Regions from separate parts of the Homo sapiens genome. Here region 2 is linked to region 1. A link means that fine-mapping ties the variant in region 1 to the expression of a gene that starts in the linked region. Tissue or cell type: monocytes. Region 1 holds a variant in brackets; the other region holds the start of a gene. All regions are shown on one strand. Distances are from middle to middle.

Region 1 (8,337 bases):
TATTAATTGTTCTTTGATTGTTGACCCCTCTCCTGTGGTGTTCCAGTGTTCTTTAGAGATTTTGTGACACACAGGCTCATGCTTGCAGAGTCTTACCATGTCACTGCTGAGGGGTAGAGGAGTGACACTCCTAAGTCACAGAGCCAGTGGTGGAGCTGGATCTGAACCAGGCGGTCTGGCCAGTCTGAACTCTTCATAACCAAGGTGCCCTTTCCCTCTCTCTGATATTGATTCCCACTGCTCTGCCACTGCCCTGCCCAAAGAAGGGGCTTAGGAAATACAATGGAAAGACTGAATGAATGAATGAACGAGAAAGGGAGAAATAAAAGAAGGAAGGGCAGAGCTTGAGATAAGCAAGCCCAAAACTGCACCACAAAGCCCCTGGCCATGTGGCGGGAGCGACAGGTGCCATCTCTGGGAAGCACTCTGAGAACCAGCTAAGGTTCAGGAGTGTATAGGTTGGGAGATGGGGGAGAAGCTGGACAAGAGAATGAGAATGGAGGGAGATGAGGCCAGAGGGATAGCAGGAGGGGAGTGGAGACAGGACCAGCATTGACTGAGTATCTGCCAATCATTTGGAGAGGGGCTGGGCACCTGCCCCTGTTTATGTCTTCTGCTTCAGCACAGACCCCTTAACTGGAACCAGCTCTTTAGAGAGAACTGCCTGATCTGTTTCTGGCCACATCCTCTCTGAGCAAGGTCCTGGGCTACCGGTCACATCCCCAGCATGGGTACTTGGCTCTTAGCAGAATAACTAGACAGGACACTAGGGAAAACCTGAGTCATCCCCTCACCACCTCCAGGCCTTGAACTGCCAGGGCTTGTGGCCAAGAGTGCCCACCAGAGGAGGGGTTGGAAGATGAACTTCCCACCTCACCCCCTCCTGCCCCTCCGTACACTCCCAAGTGGAAATGAAAGCACCCCTGGAGTTAGCAGGACCTCATGGCATAGACCTATCATGGCCAGAGAGCTCTCTTTGGAGCCACCCTCTACCCCAAGAGTGGACATGAGCCCCAGCCCCTCTTGAACAGGATAGGGCAGTGGTTAGGAGAATGGGTTGGGGACCACCAGGCCCAAGCTCTGCTCTTCCCCCAGCGGCCCTTAGTTGAGTCTCCATTTCCTACTCTGCAGTGGCAACCACACTGTGGATTGATGGAGAGACCAAGGAGAGATGTGATGAGGGCAGAGCACCGTCCCAAGCCCGAGCAGGCTCCCAGTTATCCCTAGAGGTGGCCATGGTGCTGTGACAAACTCTGGCCTTGGCCCATCGAGGTCATCTCAGGGGCCTACTTGAGATTTCCAAACTATGGATATCAGAACTGAGTTAGCTGCCGAGTAGGAAAAAATCCGTGCTGGCCTCCACCATATGCCTCCTCCCATTGCCTGCTCCTCACACCACCATACACACACTGTGCAGTCCCCACCACCAGCTGCTTCAGAGCAGCCAGGTGAGGGAGGTGATATTCACAGCCTGTGATCAAAAGGGCATTTCTGCACCCAAGCCTCAGGAGAGTCCACAGTGATGTCCCGAAACCCTCTGACCCTCCCAGGGAGAGAACTCCACTAGACAGACAGGAAATGGGGCATGGGGCTCCAGCACCCACACCCAGCCAGGTCACTGCAGTGACCACAGAGGCCTCAGCAGCAGCTGCCACCCCTCGGACTTTCAGCTCTCAGGTAACACCCTCCCTTTCCATTTCTGTTTCCTCAGGTTTGTCTCTAAAAAGGTATTTTATCACTTGACGGTTGATCGGCCTGTGATCTACGATGGAAGTGATTTCCTGTAGCTTCAGCACCTCAGTAACTTCACTTCATCCACAGGAAACACTGCTCTTCCTCACCTGTCACATAAAGCATTTTTTTAAAAAGTCAGCTGCTCCAAAATCATCAACTCAGCCCCTGGGCTGCCCCTCAGAGGCGGTGTCTGGGGAGGACTTTGTGCTCAGCACTCTGCACCGGCCACTCTTAGCCCCCGAGGCGTTGAAGGGCTCAGGCAATGTTTCCATTAAGTAGAGACTCAGCTGTTGTCACACCCAAAGGGATGCTCTGCCAAAGGTTTAAACACCCAGGAGACCATCAGCCTCTCCTGGGAGCACAGTTGGCTACAGGCCTCTTGTGGAGAGTTTCACGGGCAGGGGTGATTCCAACTTCTGCCTGTGGAGAGATTTTCTGCCCTGCCCCACCAGGGCCCTGCATGTTGGAGACTGAGCTGGGTGCACTGGCCATGCCCTGTGAATCCTCAGGCTGTGACGCCCTCAGGTACTCCTGGGAAAAGGAGGTACACAGCCATCATGCGAGTCGGTGCCAGGGGACCCCCCGGAGATCCTGACCAGCTCCTCCAGTCATGCTCTTGTCCCTCACTGCCCCAGTAAGCTGGAGGCTGCTCCAGAACTCAGCAGTGTTGGAGGGGCCTCTAAGCTGCACTCTCTTTCTGGCCCTTTTGTCTGGGTGATTCTGTCCTCAAATAAAGCCCTTCACTCAGCCAGACCTCTCCACAGCTCAAAGCATTGCCCTAAGAATCAGAAGTAAAGATAATCCAAGAGCAAAACCCACTGTACTTGGGGCCTGCAATGGCTGTGTGTACACTACATCTAATGCCCAAATGCCAGCCAGTGTGGATGTTGTGACCACAGAGCAGGATTGTGCATTGGCTTTAGAGCTACTCCTCAGCTGATGGCCCACTTTTGTTTATATAAATAAGAGCTTCTGCCCCACCTGCAGACATGTTTACTAATGATCATAGCCAGGATTAGAACCACTTTCAAACATTGGGGCCTTCTTAACAAAAGTCTTTGATAACTTAAGAACCAAAGTAACAGAGTAAACAGAGGCATGATGGATCCCTGGGCCCCACTCCCCTCCTGACAGGTTCCCCAACAGCCCATTTGCCCACTTCCCACTGCTCAGCCCACACCAGACCTCCAGGAGACATCCCCCCTTGAGGCAGAGAGATCCTGTTCCCTATTCCCAGACAAGAATTATTTAATCTTCCCTGTTCTCTGTGGTCCTTTTCTTCCCCAACAACAGATAGCTCACCTTGGACAGCTCTTCGTCCCTTGTTCATGGAACCAGCTGCCTGCAGTCAGGCCCCAGGTTCTTCCATGGGTGAACAGAGCATCTGACAAAAGGTCCCAGTTTGGCCAGGGGTGAGGGAGAGAGCACCAGACAGGCTATCCGAGAATCTGAGAGCTGGGCCCGGCAGTTCCTCCAGCTACCCTTGTGACCTAAGTCCAGTCACACATTTCCCAAAGTTTCTCTTTGTCATAACCCTGGTCTGGCTGGTTTTGAGGGCTTGAGAATGGGTCAGGGACTCCAGGCCAAGTCCAACAGAGACCCCAAACCCACCACACACCAGCAGCCACAACCTCACCACCAACAAAGAGGACTTTTGTGGGGCCACAAGTAAGAGGTCATTTCTGGAATGGACTCAGACCTTTAAACAGGAGAGTTGAGCACTTCCAGTCAGTTTTTAAGCAAGGCATGGGGAACAGGGAATAGAACCTTTCAAAGAGGTTGCCCAGAGAAAAGCTGGGCCTCTTGCATTCGGCTTCCTTGGAGCAGCCTCTTCTGGCAGAAAGCCATCAGGTGCTCAATCATCTTCTCCTGGCCAAGGCTCTGACCATGCTTAGTACTGGAATAGAGGTGGCCAGGCCCCCAGCGACTCTTCTTGGCCTGATGTTTGTCCTCACAGGCATGCCACGTGGCCTGAGATGATTCAGAACAAATCATGCTAACTTTGAATCCATCCAGCCACTTGCAAATGATAATCAGAAGTCAGCTTGTTCACTGTTAGAAAGAAACTAACAAAAGAGAACCCAGAGCAATCTAGAATCTTTGAGTGCTTGGCTTTCCAAGGATACTGCGGAGACTCTGGCCAAGCTGATGACCTTCTGAAGTGTCACTGGCACCATATGCAACAAGAACCACCATTCACTGAGTAGCTAATGGGTTTGGGGCCTGGGACATTCCATCTGAGGTCCTTCCTGAACATGTCACTCCACAGCAGAGGACCGGTTGCAGCTTACCCAGAACCACTCCTCCAGGAGAGCTGGATGTTTTGCGTGCAACACCTTGAGCACTGACTGCTATTGTTCAAAAAAAGCCTTTGCTGCATTCGGAGGACTGCCCCGTGCCCTGAGGTGACTTCCTAACTATGTGGTTTCATTAGCGAATTTATTTTTTGTGCTGGGTG[G/A]ACATTTGTATTTTGTTAGGTTGCTGTTTAAGCTCAAGTTTGCTGTGCTCTCTGCAGCTACAAAACATCTTGGCATATTTAAGAGTGGCTTTTATAAATAGCTTTATTCTGATATTAATCAGATTCCCAACTTTACTGAGAATTAAGGACTGGGGTACTTTAAAGAAATGCAAATAGCAATTGAAGAACCACTGCTGCAGGTGGTAGCCCTGGCTAGACTGAATTACACTAGAAATCAGCCAGAAGGAAGCGTCCTTGGGATCCCAGATCACTCTTTTTTTTTTTTTTTAAAAGGGGCAGCCCCTTGATGGCTCATCTCTCTGAATAACAGTTACGTCTTCATATCGATACCAGATGCCTTCTTCATCATGCCACTGAAGCCACTCACCACCTTCAAGAACATGCCAACCTCTGTCAGATTCACTTACCCACAAACAAGGAGGCACGTTTGGCACAAAGTGTTGTCCTCCAGGTCCAAGTGGACTCTACAGAGTGCTTGACCTCAACACACTGGATTCCAGGTGGACTGGACCAAGAGCAGGCAAAGACACGGGAACTGAAAAACTCCACAGGGTTTGGAGAATAGAAATGAAAAGCCACGTCATATAACTCAAGAATAAATGGTGTTTTGGAAATTTTAAAATTATCATCGAAGGTGGTGAAACTATTTCAGGCCCAAATGAAAGGAAATCGCCAGTTGGGGATGAAATCACAGAGCCTGTGTTTTATGATATGGTTGGATGTCCACTGATGAAATTTTAAAGGAGTTTCAGTTTTAAAAGTGCGCATGATTCTACATATGAGAATTCTTTAGGCCAAGAAACTGTCCTTGGCTCAGAGGTGTTGGGAATTAAAGCAGAGAGAAGCCATTCGTGATGCTTAGAACCAAGGATGGTCATGTACACAAAGACCATCGAGACGGCCATTCTTGTTTACAAAACACTTACCAAGAAAGCACTTTGTAGGGGAACTTTAGTAAGTTCTTCTCATTTCATTATGTTTCTTCCAAGGAAACAGGAGAGACTGAATTAATAATTCTCTCTTTCCTCTTAAGCACTTTTAAAATAATAAAGTACATCTTGAAATTTGGGGAGGCATCTCTGATTTAAAAAAAGAAAAAGGCTGCTTGATGTATGTTATGCAGAGACACTCTGCCTCTGGTGGCTGCAGAGCAATACCCAAGCCTCATTTGGAAGGCTCAACATTTGGAATTGCACTTTAATTGATTAATCCTCAATTCATGTGGCCTTACGGGATGGTGGGTCTGGGACCCCAATTCATTCTTATCTGCCAAAGAATTATCTAGAAGCACATCAAATACCAGCACCCCACCTGCTCAATGGGGGTGGAAAACTTTTGTATCCCTAAGCATATTATTTTATAGTGTCTGCCATGCCATGTGGAAATACTTTATTTTTAACCTCAGGATTTAAATAAAGTAAACACTATGACATTTAGACATTTGTCTCTCATTTTTTTGGGACATAAAGTGCACCACGAAGTTATACAGAGCTGAGTTGGGGTTGAGCTGTGCTGCTGGGAAATAGAGCATCTTTTATGGTGGCTTTTCAGGAGGACTTGAGCCAGCAGATGTTCTGGGAAGTTTCCAGGTGGCCTGGCACCTGGCTGCTTCCTGGCCTGCTGTGAGGGTGGTGTTTAGACCTGCCTGAGACAGCCTGTCTTTCAATCCATGCTGTTGTGCCCTATGGGCTTCTAGCCTCAGCTCAAATGTCCAGATCTCCCAGGGCACCCACAGAGCATGTTGAGCAAAGAGCAGACTTCTGAGTTTACCGGAACAATGGGGCTGGGGAGAAGCATCATGGATGGCCTAAAACCATGATTGGTCAATATGAGGTACAAAGCTGGGCAAGACTGCCAGGCTGAGATGGCTGGCAGAGGAAGAAGTCAGCCCTCCCATTCCCGCATACCTTTCTCTGGCTGGGTCAGCAAAGAGCCTGGACAGAGGCCCAGAGGGGCATGCCCTGGTCACTGCTGGATGTTGGACTGAGCTCAGGCTGGGCAGCCCACCCACACTCACCTCACACCCCCACTCCAGGGATGACCAGGGCTCTGTCCCTGCAGTGCTCTGCACCTCAAAAGAACACCTCCCCACACCACCCCTTCACCGCCCTTCCTCCGCCAGCCCTCTCCTGCTGCCAGACTTTCGTTTGGCCTCTTCTTTAATCTGTTACTCCATGGAAGAAGTCACATTTTCTGTAACTCTGGTTCTCTCCCAAGGATAAAAGACAGTGAATCCTTCATCTTTATCTTCATCTCCCTCCTCCCTTCTCTCCCCACCGCAGCATCGAGCAACATGCCAGGCAGGAAGGGACTCAAAAAATACTGAATTGACCTCTCGGGTCAGTCCCAGTGCCCTGGGTCGCCAAAAAGTCATCAGCATTCCCACTGGCGACTAACTCTGCCAGGAATAGAGGCTCCTGAAACACTCCGGTGGCAGAGGAGGGAAAGGGTGGGCCTGCAGGAGGAGATACAGGCAATGATAGCTGGTCACTCAGTCCCACCCCCTGCACCCCCTCTTATGTCAAAGATGCCCTTGGGCTGGGCGCAGTGGCTCACGCCTGTAATCCCAACACTTTGGGAGTCCAAGGCAGGAGGATTGCTTGAGCCCAGGGGTTCAAGACCACCTGGGCAACACAGTGAGACCCCGTCTCTACATTTTTTTTTCTTTAATTAGCCAGGTGTGGTAGTGCATGTCTATAGTCCCAACTCAGTAGAGGCTGCAGTGAGCCAAGATCATGCCACTCCACGAGTGACAGAGTGAGGCCCTGTCTCAAAAAAATAAAAAGGTACCCTCAGATCAAGTATCTATCTAGTAACCAGATTGCAGTAATGGCAGATAGTTACTCCACCTGCCCCAAATGACAGAGCCAGAGAGTTTCTTTGTTAATACAACAGTCCTTCCTGAGGCTTGGGGGCCTCATGGGCTGGGGGCTAGAACAAGAAACAGTTGAGACATACATATATGTGTGTGCTGTGCATCTGGGGCTGGGATCTGGGGACCTCCAGGTCAAAATCCTCCATTCCACCTCACCCCACCCTGCTAAACTGCAGAATAACTCAAGATGACCCAAGTCTTTGCTGGAGGGTTTCCAAGCCCCACGCTTGATTCCAGGTAATCCGGGCCCAGTTCAGTGTTCACAGGCTCTGTGGCACAAAGAGGTGCCCCGCCCCTCCCTGCCACTCTGCCGGGTGAGGGCTGAGGATGCAGAGACTCCTGGGTGACTCAGAAGGCTCCTCACAGCAAGGTCAGCCCTTTCAGTTTGAAGACGCGTGGGAAAAATCTCCTCTTGCCACCCACACACATCTGAAGAGCAAACAGATGGTGAAACCAGTAGCCCAAGATGAGAAAACGGACTTTTTTTGAGACAGCAGTTGAAGCTGAAGCCTCAAAAGCCGGGCGGGGGGAAAGCATAGCAATTATGAAAGACATTCAAAGTGGGTTAGGGGTGAGGGAAAGGTCAGCCTTTTACTTTTCCCACACCCGCTGTTTTCTGAAGAAGGATGGTAATGCGAGCAGAAGGGTGATGGCCAACCTCTGGGCTTTGATGTGTGTCCCCTCCTCCCGCCCCCATCCTGCAAGCTCTGGGGAGGTCGGAGACTAGTGTGGTTTCCTCACACCTCCCACCATGCTGGCACTGAGGTTATCTAAGAGTTGACAGCCCCATCTAAAGCCTTGAATGAATTAAGTCTTTTTTAGCTAAAAAATGAACAAAACCTGAGATGCATGAGTGTCCTTACCAAAAGGAAGTCCTTGTTTCTAGGACAGGTCTGTCTTCGGGCCTGTGGGTCCATAGAATCATCACAGAAAAAATGATTTCAGGAGGTCTCCCCCGCTTTCTGCTCCCAAGGCCGACTCTGACTGAGCCTCGGAGGAGAGAAGGAAGCCATTTCTGGGAGGCCAAAACGTCCGTCTTCCAGGTCAGTGGGGCAGGTGCTGTCTTCTCCCTGGCTTGAGAGAGGAAAGCTGGTGAGGGAGAAGGGTGGGGCGGAGGTGGGCGGTGCGGGGATAAAAGATCGGAGAGCAAAGCAGTGATGAGAAAAGAGGGGTAACAGAAAGGGCCTCCCTAAAGGCTGCAAGGAGGGCTGGACCCAGGGCTGCTTAGCAGAAGCCATCTTTCTCATTG
Region 2 (8,000 bases), 76 kb before region 1:
TGTTGATTCTGCAGTCAACTTCTGATTCCTTCCGTGGGTCTTACACTCGAATTTTCCAGCAGAGAGATTAATTGACCAGTGACTATCAAGAGGAGGCTGACTCTTTTGAGCTGCCACCCCATGCCATTGGCATGGCTGGCATCCACTTCTGGCCTGACCAGCAGGGGCCACAATGGTAGGGTCCTTGGCAGAGCACATGGCTGCCCCATGGAAGGAGCTGCCATCACAGTGGTTAAAGGCTTAAACTCTAATTGGACAGACCTGAGCTCAAAATTTGTCTCTGCCACTATAAGGTTTGGGCTTTAGGCAAATTAGCTAACTTCTCTAAGGCTGTTTGCTTATCTGCTTAATGTGGATAATTATGTATCATGAGACTGATATAAGGATAAAACTAAACCAGGTGTGGAATACACATAACATGGCACCTGGCACATAAAAAGCCCTTAACAATCATTCCAAGAGCCTCATCCCTCCTCAGGGCCGTGGGCACGGTCAGCTTCCCGTGAGGAATAGTCTCCTCTTCTGCCACTTGTTAAGGCTGTAAGGAGAGGGTGTGGGGATTTGGTGATTTTGAATCTGATCTCTTAATGTGTATTCACATCAGAACACAAGAATATGCTGCGTTTGTTTGTATGTTTGTTTGAAAGATTATAGTTTGAAATACTCTGCTGTATCTATAAAGGAAATCCAAGTTAAACTACCTGAACAGTAGTGATTTTGTTAACCTTCCCTGTATCTGACAGTGTGCTGGGTGACAGAAGACCCCTCAGGAGCCCCCAGCTCTACCCCAGCCTCCACCACTCTCCACCACTTATTAGGTGGGTGGACCAGGACAGTCATTTAACCTCTCTGAGCTTCATCTCCTCATCTTCAAAGTATGATAATGAATACTAATTATGTCACCAAGTGGCTGCAAGTTTTAAATATAATGCTGAATGGGTTTTTGTTGTTGTTTTTTGTTTTTTTGCTGGGGGGCTAGGGACTGGCATATAGGTCCTCAATAAATATTAGGTTTGTTTTCCTTTTCTTTTCAAACTCCTTTTGGGTTTAAGTTTCTGTGGTATTATGATGTCTGTCTATCTGTCTGTCTATCTATCTATCTATCTATCTATCTATCTATCTATCTATCTATCTATCTTGGTTTTCTTCCATGGTTCCTGGCTCATAACTCCCATAGCCCTTGTTACAGTCTTTTGTTATGTTAGGTATGTTAGGCTTCAGGAAACCGAATCTCTCTGGCCTTCTGCCCTCCTTTCACCTGCTTTAAGGCAGGACTCTAATCTTCCCCCGCCTTTCTTTCTTTTTTTTTTTCTTTAAGATGGAGTTTTGCTCTTGTTGCCCAGGCTGGAGTGCAATGGCTCGATCTTGGCTCACCGCAACCTCCGCCTCCCGGGTTCAAGCGATTCTCCTGCCTCAGCCTCCCTAGAAGCTGGGATTATAGGCATGTGCCACCACGCCCGGCTAATTTTGTATTTTTAATAGAGATGGGGTTTCTCCATGTTGGTCAGGCTGGTCTCAAACTCCCGACCTCAGGTGATCCGCCCACCTCGGCCTCCCAAGGCGTGAGCTGGGATTACAGGCGTGAGCCACCGTGCCCAGCCGCTTCCCCCGCCTTTCTGATTATAGGTCTTAAGACCCTCCCAAGAGAGGGTCCTCCCCTATACCCTGGGGGAAGCAATGCTGACATCACGAAGCTTCCATAAAAGCCCAAGAGGACTGGATTCGGGGAGCTTCGGGATAGCTGAACACGTGGAGGTTACTGAAGAGTGGTGCATCCAGGGAAGGCATGGAAGCCCCACGCCCCTTCCTCCACACCTCATCCTACGTGTCTCTTTATCTGCATCCATTGCAGTATCCTTTATAATAGACCAGTAAATGTGTTTCTCTGAGTTCTATGAACCACTTTAGCAAATTAGCTGAACCCAAAGAGGGTGTCGTGGGAACTCAACTTGAAGCCAGTCATTCCAAAATTCTGGAGGCCTAGACTTACAACTGGTGTTTAAAGGTGAGGAGGCAGTCTTGGGGACTGAGCCCTCCACTTGTGGGATCTGATACTCCAGGTAGATAGTGTCGGAATTGAATTGGAGGACACCCAGGTGCGGTCCACTGCTCAGTGTGTGGGGAAAACCCCACACACATCTGGTCACCAAATTATTCTCCTGTGTTGATGATTGCTGTTGTGTAAGAGTAGAGGAAAAATACGGTTTGAGGGAGGTTTTTTTTTCCCCACACAGTTTCAAACAAGGATATTGGACCAGATGACCAACATTAAAATCTCTCTCATCCTTAATATTGCATGAAGCTGTTCAGACAGTGGTTGGAGCAATGATTTCTCTTAGACCACTACATTGATTACTTTTCTCTTTGTCATCTTCTCACTCCCCCCGTTTTCTTTCTGTTCTCCTTTCTGTTAACAAGAGTGGAAATCACTTCTATTCATGTACCTCCTCCCAACCCCACCCCCAAACTGACTACTCCATCCATCCAACTCACTGTTTTAGCTACATCTAATTTATAAAATTAGATGGCTAATGAGATGTCATAGCCTAAAATCGACTAAGAAATTGATTTTCTTTCTGTATTATTGTACCCAGACAACACCCTGCTTCCTCAGTTTAGAATGTTGGGCCACCACGGTTCCTGACTGGATACCACGAGCTAGGTCCTACAAGGGAGAGAGCTGTTTCTGGCTTAAATGATGAGAACTAGGGCAGAGAGTAAAGGATAGCCAGCCACAGCTAAGGAATGCAGTCAGTTAGAAGCCAAAGTCCCCGTGTAGTGTTCCTCTTTTCTACTGTGCCCATAGCGGACACTGATTGAATGCATTTTGTTCTATCGTATTCAGTTCCACAGTGCTTTGCAACACCCATCTTATAAATAGAAGTTGGGCTGAGGATGGGGCCAAAGTTAGGGGTGGTAGTTCATAAACACGTAGTTTTTGAGCACTAATTTTAAGTAAGACCCTGATATTAAGAAATAAGGGGGATTAAAAGATGGGAAATTAGGCCCACCAATACATGTTTTTCTATTTCCCAATATATCAAAATATTATCATTTTAACATGCAATCACTAAAAATTAATGAGCTAGTTAACATTCTTCGGACTCTTTGGTACCTAGGTGTATTTCACACTTACAGCACGTGCACGATTCAACTCGAACTAGCTACCTTTGGAGTGCTCCTTAGCCACACAAGAACAGCGTTGTTGTCAAGATGCCAGACCTTTGATTTGTGGCCCTCCGGGGTTGCAGGCGTTAACCTGGGGCCAGCATGGGTCGCGGGTGGGACAGTCGGTCCGGGGACTGGGCGGTGGGAGCACTTAAACCCCGCCCTGCGGAGTCGCCGGGAGTTGTAGTCGGAGCCCCGGGAGTCCGATGGGAGTTGCAGGCCTCAGCCCCGGGGAGCACGCCGGGAGTTGTAGTCCGCCCCCGCCACCCTCTTGGTGTGCGCGTCATGGCCGTCAGCACCGCGTTCCCGTCCTCTTCCGCTTGGCCCCAGAAAGTTTCGGTTCTGCCCGGCGGTGGACCCACGAGCGCGTAAGTGCCGCGGAAGACCGGCTGGACTCTGGGGGCACCTGGGTCGCTCACGATCCCTGAGGCGAGAGCTTCGCTCGGGGCGCGGCTTGTCACCTGTTGCCCTTACAGTCCCCGCCCATCCCAGGTCTCCCTCAGACCCTGCCCGAGCGCCCCCGTCCTTGCCCAGCGGGCCGGGAAGCACCTCGGGCAGGTGGAAGCCGGCCCAGGCACCCAGCCTGCCTCTGTTGGTCGGTTAGAAAGACAGACCCCAAACACCAGTTCCAAGACCCCGGAGGGCGGAGGGCCCGCAAAGGAAAGGAGCCCACCATGCGGCGTCTCAGAACAAGCCTGAATGTCTTAGCGCAGGATGGGGCAGGCCCCGGAGTTCCTGCCTGCGTGGTCTTTAGGAAGTTTAGTCTCTGGCCCAGTTGGGCCGGGACAGCCCAGACCTTCACTTTGCAAGACTCCGCTGGTGCTCGGATCTCTGCCCTCTTCCCAGGAGGGGAAGAAGCTTCTTTCTTCCTGGCCCATCCTTTGGCCAAGACCTATTCACTATCCACTGCCCCTTGTGCCCATGCGCAGGGTCTCGAGCTAGCCCCCAGGGGTCTTTTCCCGAAACACCTGTTGTCTCTGGTGTGGCGGCACTGCACTGGACTGGAGTCCGTGCTGTTGAAACCTGGCGGGGGTGGGGCGGGGAGGGGGGAGGATGGCGGGATTTTATTTTTTGTAAGAAAAGCACATGTGGTTGACACGTTAACCGCGTGGCCCCCTGTTAAAGCACATGTATTCTCTGATGTCCCTGTCACTCTTCACTGTTCCCATTGGGTGTCCTCTCCAGAAAAAAAAATAGAACACTTGTTGAAACTGCCTGTGTTGGCCAGAGCCTCTCAGCCCCTCTGCTTGTCTTACCACAGCAGTTTCCTTTCCCGACAGAGAAATGGGTCAGGGGCTTTTGCGGGGCAGAGGATCCAGGGCTTAATCTGCTCACTGGTTCTCCTGCCCGTGCAGGCCTTGTGGTCTCAGGCTGCAAGCTTAATTCCCCTGCCATCTGCCTAATGCGGCTGGAGGGTGTTGGGGGCTGGTGTGGGGGAGGGGTGGGGAGCTGGAGCTATCATGCCAAGGTTTTCTGCTTTCAGTAGTTCCCACCTTCTGAAGTGGACCCCTGTTGAGTGAGCTCCACTTGACCCTCCCTTCTGTGACAACCACTGTTCTGAAAGCATTGAATGCCCCATACTAGTTGTGCACCGTGGTTATTATCACCCTGAAAATAAGAGCTAATTGTCACAGTGATGGATCTCAGCCTCCTTTGATTAATAGGATCTCTCCTAAAGGCTCTTGCTTTAGGAAATAGAGTTTATCTGTTTATGTTCAAAGTGACTATCTTTGTGTAGCACTTCATTTACTTTTTAAATTGTTTTTAATATTTTATTAGAAAAATAAACATACAGAATCACTGAAAGGATTGTATGGTGAATATCCGTATACTCAATTCTTAATATTTTACTTTGATTTTTTTTTTTTTTTGCAGTTACTTTAGAGATTGGTAACAGTCTCAGGCAGTGATCCTTTAGCTGTTGTTCCGATGACCTTTGCCCCTTGGGGCTGGGTTTGGAGCACCAGTATAATTTCAGGAGCCAAGTTTTTAACCTGGTCCTTTTTGAGGGGGATGGCCCCCATAGATGTTTGTGATGAGAGGAATCACCCATAACAGAGCAAGATCAGAGCAGCTGGTAGCTTTGACCCATATTGGTCACCAAGGCTATGGACTGCTGACTCAAGAATACAAAGTAGGTACGCAAGAAATGGCAGCCCCCTCACCCCCACCCACCCTGCTTCCCTTTAGGGGAGATGTTTAGCTGATAGGTAACTTTTGTTTACTGAAGATTCCAAAGACACAGCTTTGGTGACTCAAGACTAGAATGTCTTTAAACATGAGGCAGAGGAAGTGTGTTGTCTAGCTGTGGTCTTATGGTGGAAATCACTGGTAGGCACCTAGATTTAGGAACCACGTTCACTGCAAGCAGCCCTAGGCAGCAGGTAAGGGTCATTAACTGGTGCCTGTGATTACAGAGGCAACTTGTGAGCACAGATGAGTCCATTATGGTCAGGGCAACATCTGCTCACGTCATGACTGCTATGTTCTTGTCTTAGTCAAAAGATAAACAGTATTTTGTTTGTGAGCTCAATGCCAGTTTCAAGAAAATAAGAAGTCTTTATTGGTATAAGAGCCTCTATCTGAGCAATTAAATAAATCAATAGGGTGGGAATTGGAATGTTTCTGTGGTTCTACCTATGGAAATGCTGTTTACCTTCTTGCTGTTCGTTGATACATCACAAAAATGGCTGAAATGTCTGTACTACCCCCATAATAAGAGCCATTGCCTTGGAGCAAATGGGCCCCATGGCTTTGAGAAGAGGATGATGGCAGAAGCTGTGCTCAGTTAGGCAAGAGCAGTTTTATCCCTTTTCTCACATGGGAGCCAGTCAACCTGTTGATTTTAGTAACTTCCAGTGGTCCTTCCTGTTCACTTGGATCTCTGTGGCATTTGAAAGGCACCAAGGGCCTGTTTCTCATTAGGCCGGATGCCATTTGGAGGATGTGTACATCAGTGTGGTTCTGATGAAAGACTTAAGGAGAATCTGTGGTTTGGGTATAGTATTGTGGCCCTGTGGCTGGGACCCAAGGGCTGATCTGGCCAACTACCTCAGGAATCTAGAGTACTATACCCTAGGCCAGTCCCAGGAACCCGAGTTAGGGGAAGTCCTTAGCATACAAAAGAAAAGCTTGGACCAAAAAAAGCATTCCAAGAAAACCATTAGCATGCAGGGGGCAAGGCCAAGAGAAGAATCCCTATGTGAAGTCCAGGATAGGGCTGGATAGCTGAATCAGAAACAGTGGTTTAAAATGGAGCTGGAAGGAATTTCCTGAAGTTGACTCTGCAGCCCCAGATGCTTTTTCCAGGGTATCTGTAGACTTGGTCAGGAGCAGGGAGGGGACACTTAGAAGCCTCAGCCACTGAGAATGTCTGTTACCCCCCCTTTCCCACCTCCTTCAAGGGTTGCAATTCTTAATTAATTCACATGAAGGAAGTTTACCTCTCAACATTGCATCTGAAAAAAGAAAGGTAGGAAGAGGTCAAATGACTTCCCCAGGACAGATAGAGTGCCTAAAAATAGTTGAGTAAGCTAAATATACCTTGGGTCTCACCCAACCATGGCATGATCTTTGTTGCATAATACATAATGGAAAGTTCACGTAACTAGTCTGATTCCAAAATCTAAATAGGGTCCCATTTGACAAAACTTGGCTACCACTGGTAAGAGAGAAGAAAATATCTTGCTCATTGCTCCAACTCCAGCTTCAGAGCCATCCTGGGTCCTGCTTGCCCCTCCCATCTGCAGCATGGCCCCACCTTCTGCCTCTCTGCACCTACGCTGGCACTGCTGTTGTCATGCTCCTCCCCAAGAAGTGCAACAGAACCCAGGCCCACCAGCACCTCCCCTCCCCAGGTTGCCTTGTTGATGGTGTCACATGCACACTTTCAGGAATGGAGAGACAAGGGCCTTGGGAGGTGTATTTGTGCTAGGGCTGCCATAACAAAATACCACAAACTGAGTGGCTTAAGCAGCAGAAATGTACTTTCTTACAGTTCTGGAGGCTGTAAGTCCCAGATCAAGCCATTGGCAGGTTTGGCTTCTCCTGAGGCCTCTCTCCTTGGCTCTCAGACAGCCGCCTTCTTGCTGTGGCCTCACACGGCTTTTCCTCTGTGCTCCGCATCCCTGGTATCTCTTGTGTGTGTCCAGAATTCCCCTTATAAACTCACCAGTTCCAATTGGATTTGGGCCCACTCTCATGGCCTCATTTAATCTTCATTACCTCTTTAAAGGCCCTGTCTTCAAATGCAGTCACATTCTGAGGTATGAGGGTTAGGGCTTCAACATCGAAATGCGGTGGGGTGGTGTGCACAATTCACCCCCTGACAGGAGGTTTGGGTTAGCAGGGTTGTTTGTGAGGGTGGCGGTGCTTTTCATTTTCCAGGATGGGGTGAAGGAGGCTGTGGGTAAGGCTTCCTCGGGAACCGAACTGTGGTTCACACTTCCTCCTGTCCACACCAAACCCAGCGAGACTGGAGCAGCTGGCCAAAGGAAGGTGTAGGGAGCATGAGCTGGGCAGGGCATGGCCTTGGCAGAGGGAGCAGAGCATTCAAACCCTGGAGGCAGGGCCCAGCCACAGAAGGGCATCGCAGGGATGCCTGAACATAGGCAGAGGGGAAGAAGGGAAGGAGGAGGGACAAGAAGATGGGCCTATCCCTATCGAGGTCAGGCAGCCCATCTGTAAAGGGCCTCACAAGCTGGGTTAAGAGATTTGTACCCATGTCTGACAGCAGTCACCTGAGCTCTCAGGACACCAGAGGTCTGTTTATAAAGAGAGGCTAGGTAGGCAGTGTGGAGTAGACACACTTCATCCATCCCTGAATTATATTA

What was found. PIP is the estimated chance that this variant, and not a neighbour inherited with it, causes the effect.
Region 2: it holds the start of FYCO1, and the variant in region 1 is fine-mapped to the expression of FYCO1 in monocytes (TOPMed, PIP 0.91).

What each region holds. Positions count from the first base shown.
Region 1 is chr3:45,915,215-45,923,551 of GRCh38, reverse strand. FYCO1 (FYVE and coiled-coil domain autophagy adaptor 1) reads left to right here. Exons shown (of 18, transcript NM_024513.4): 18 at 1,712-5,649. The coding sequence ends at 1,787. It also overlaps a transcript of LZTFL1 not described here. Among named protein-coding and RNA genes, the nearest start is that of CXCR6, 24 kb to the left of the region's middle. RefSeq lists enhancers at 7,375-7,644, 7,084-8,283. The variant G/A (reference allele first, on the strand shown) is at 4,193.
Region 2 is chr3:45,991,258-45,999,257 of GRCh38, reverse strand. FYCO1 (FYVE and coiled-coil domain autophagy adaptor 1) reads left to right here and starts at 3,434. Exons shown (of 18, transcript NM_024513.4): 1 at 3,434-3,536. It overlaps LOC105377063 (a long non-coding RNA gene), which reads right to left and starts at 3,355. Exons shown (of 3, transcript XR_940799.3): 1 at 3,169-3,355. RefSeq lists enhancers at 3,406-3,565, 3,586-3,635, 3,136-3,635, 5,681-6,181.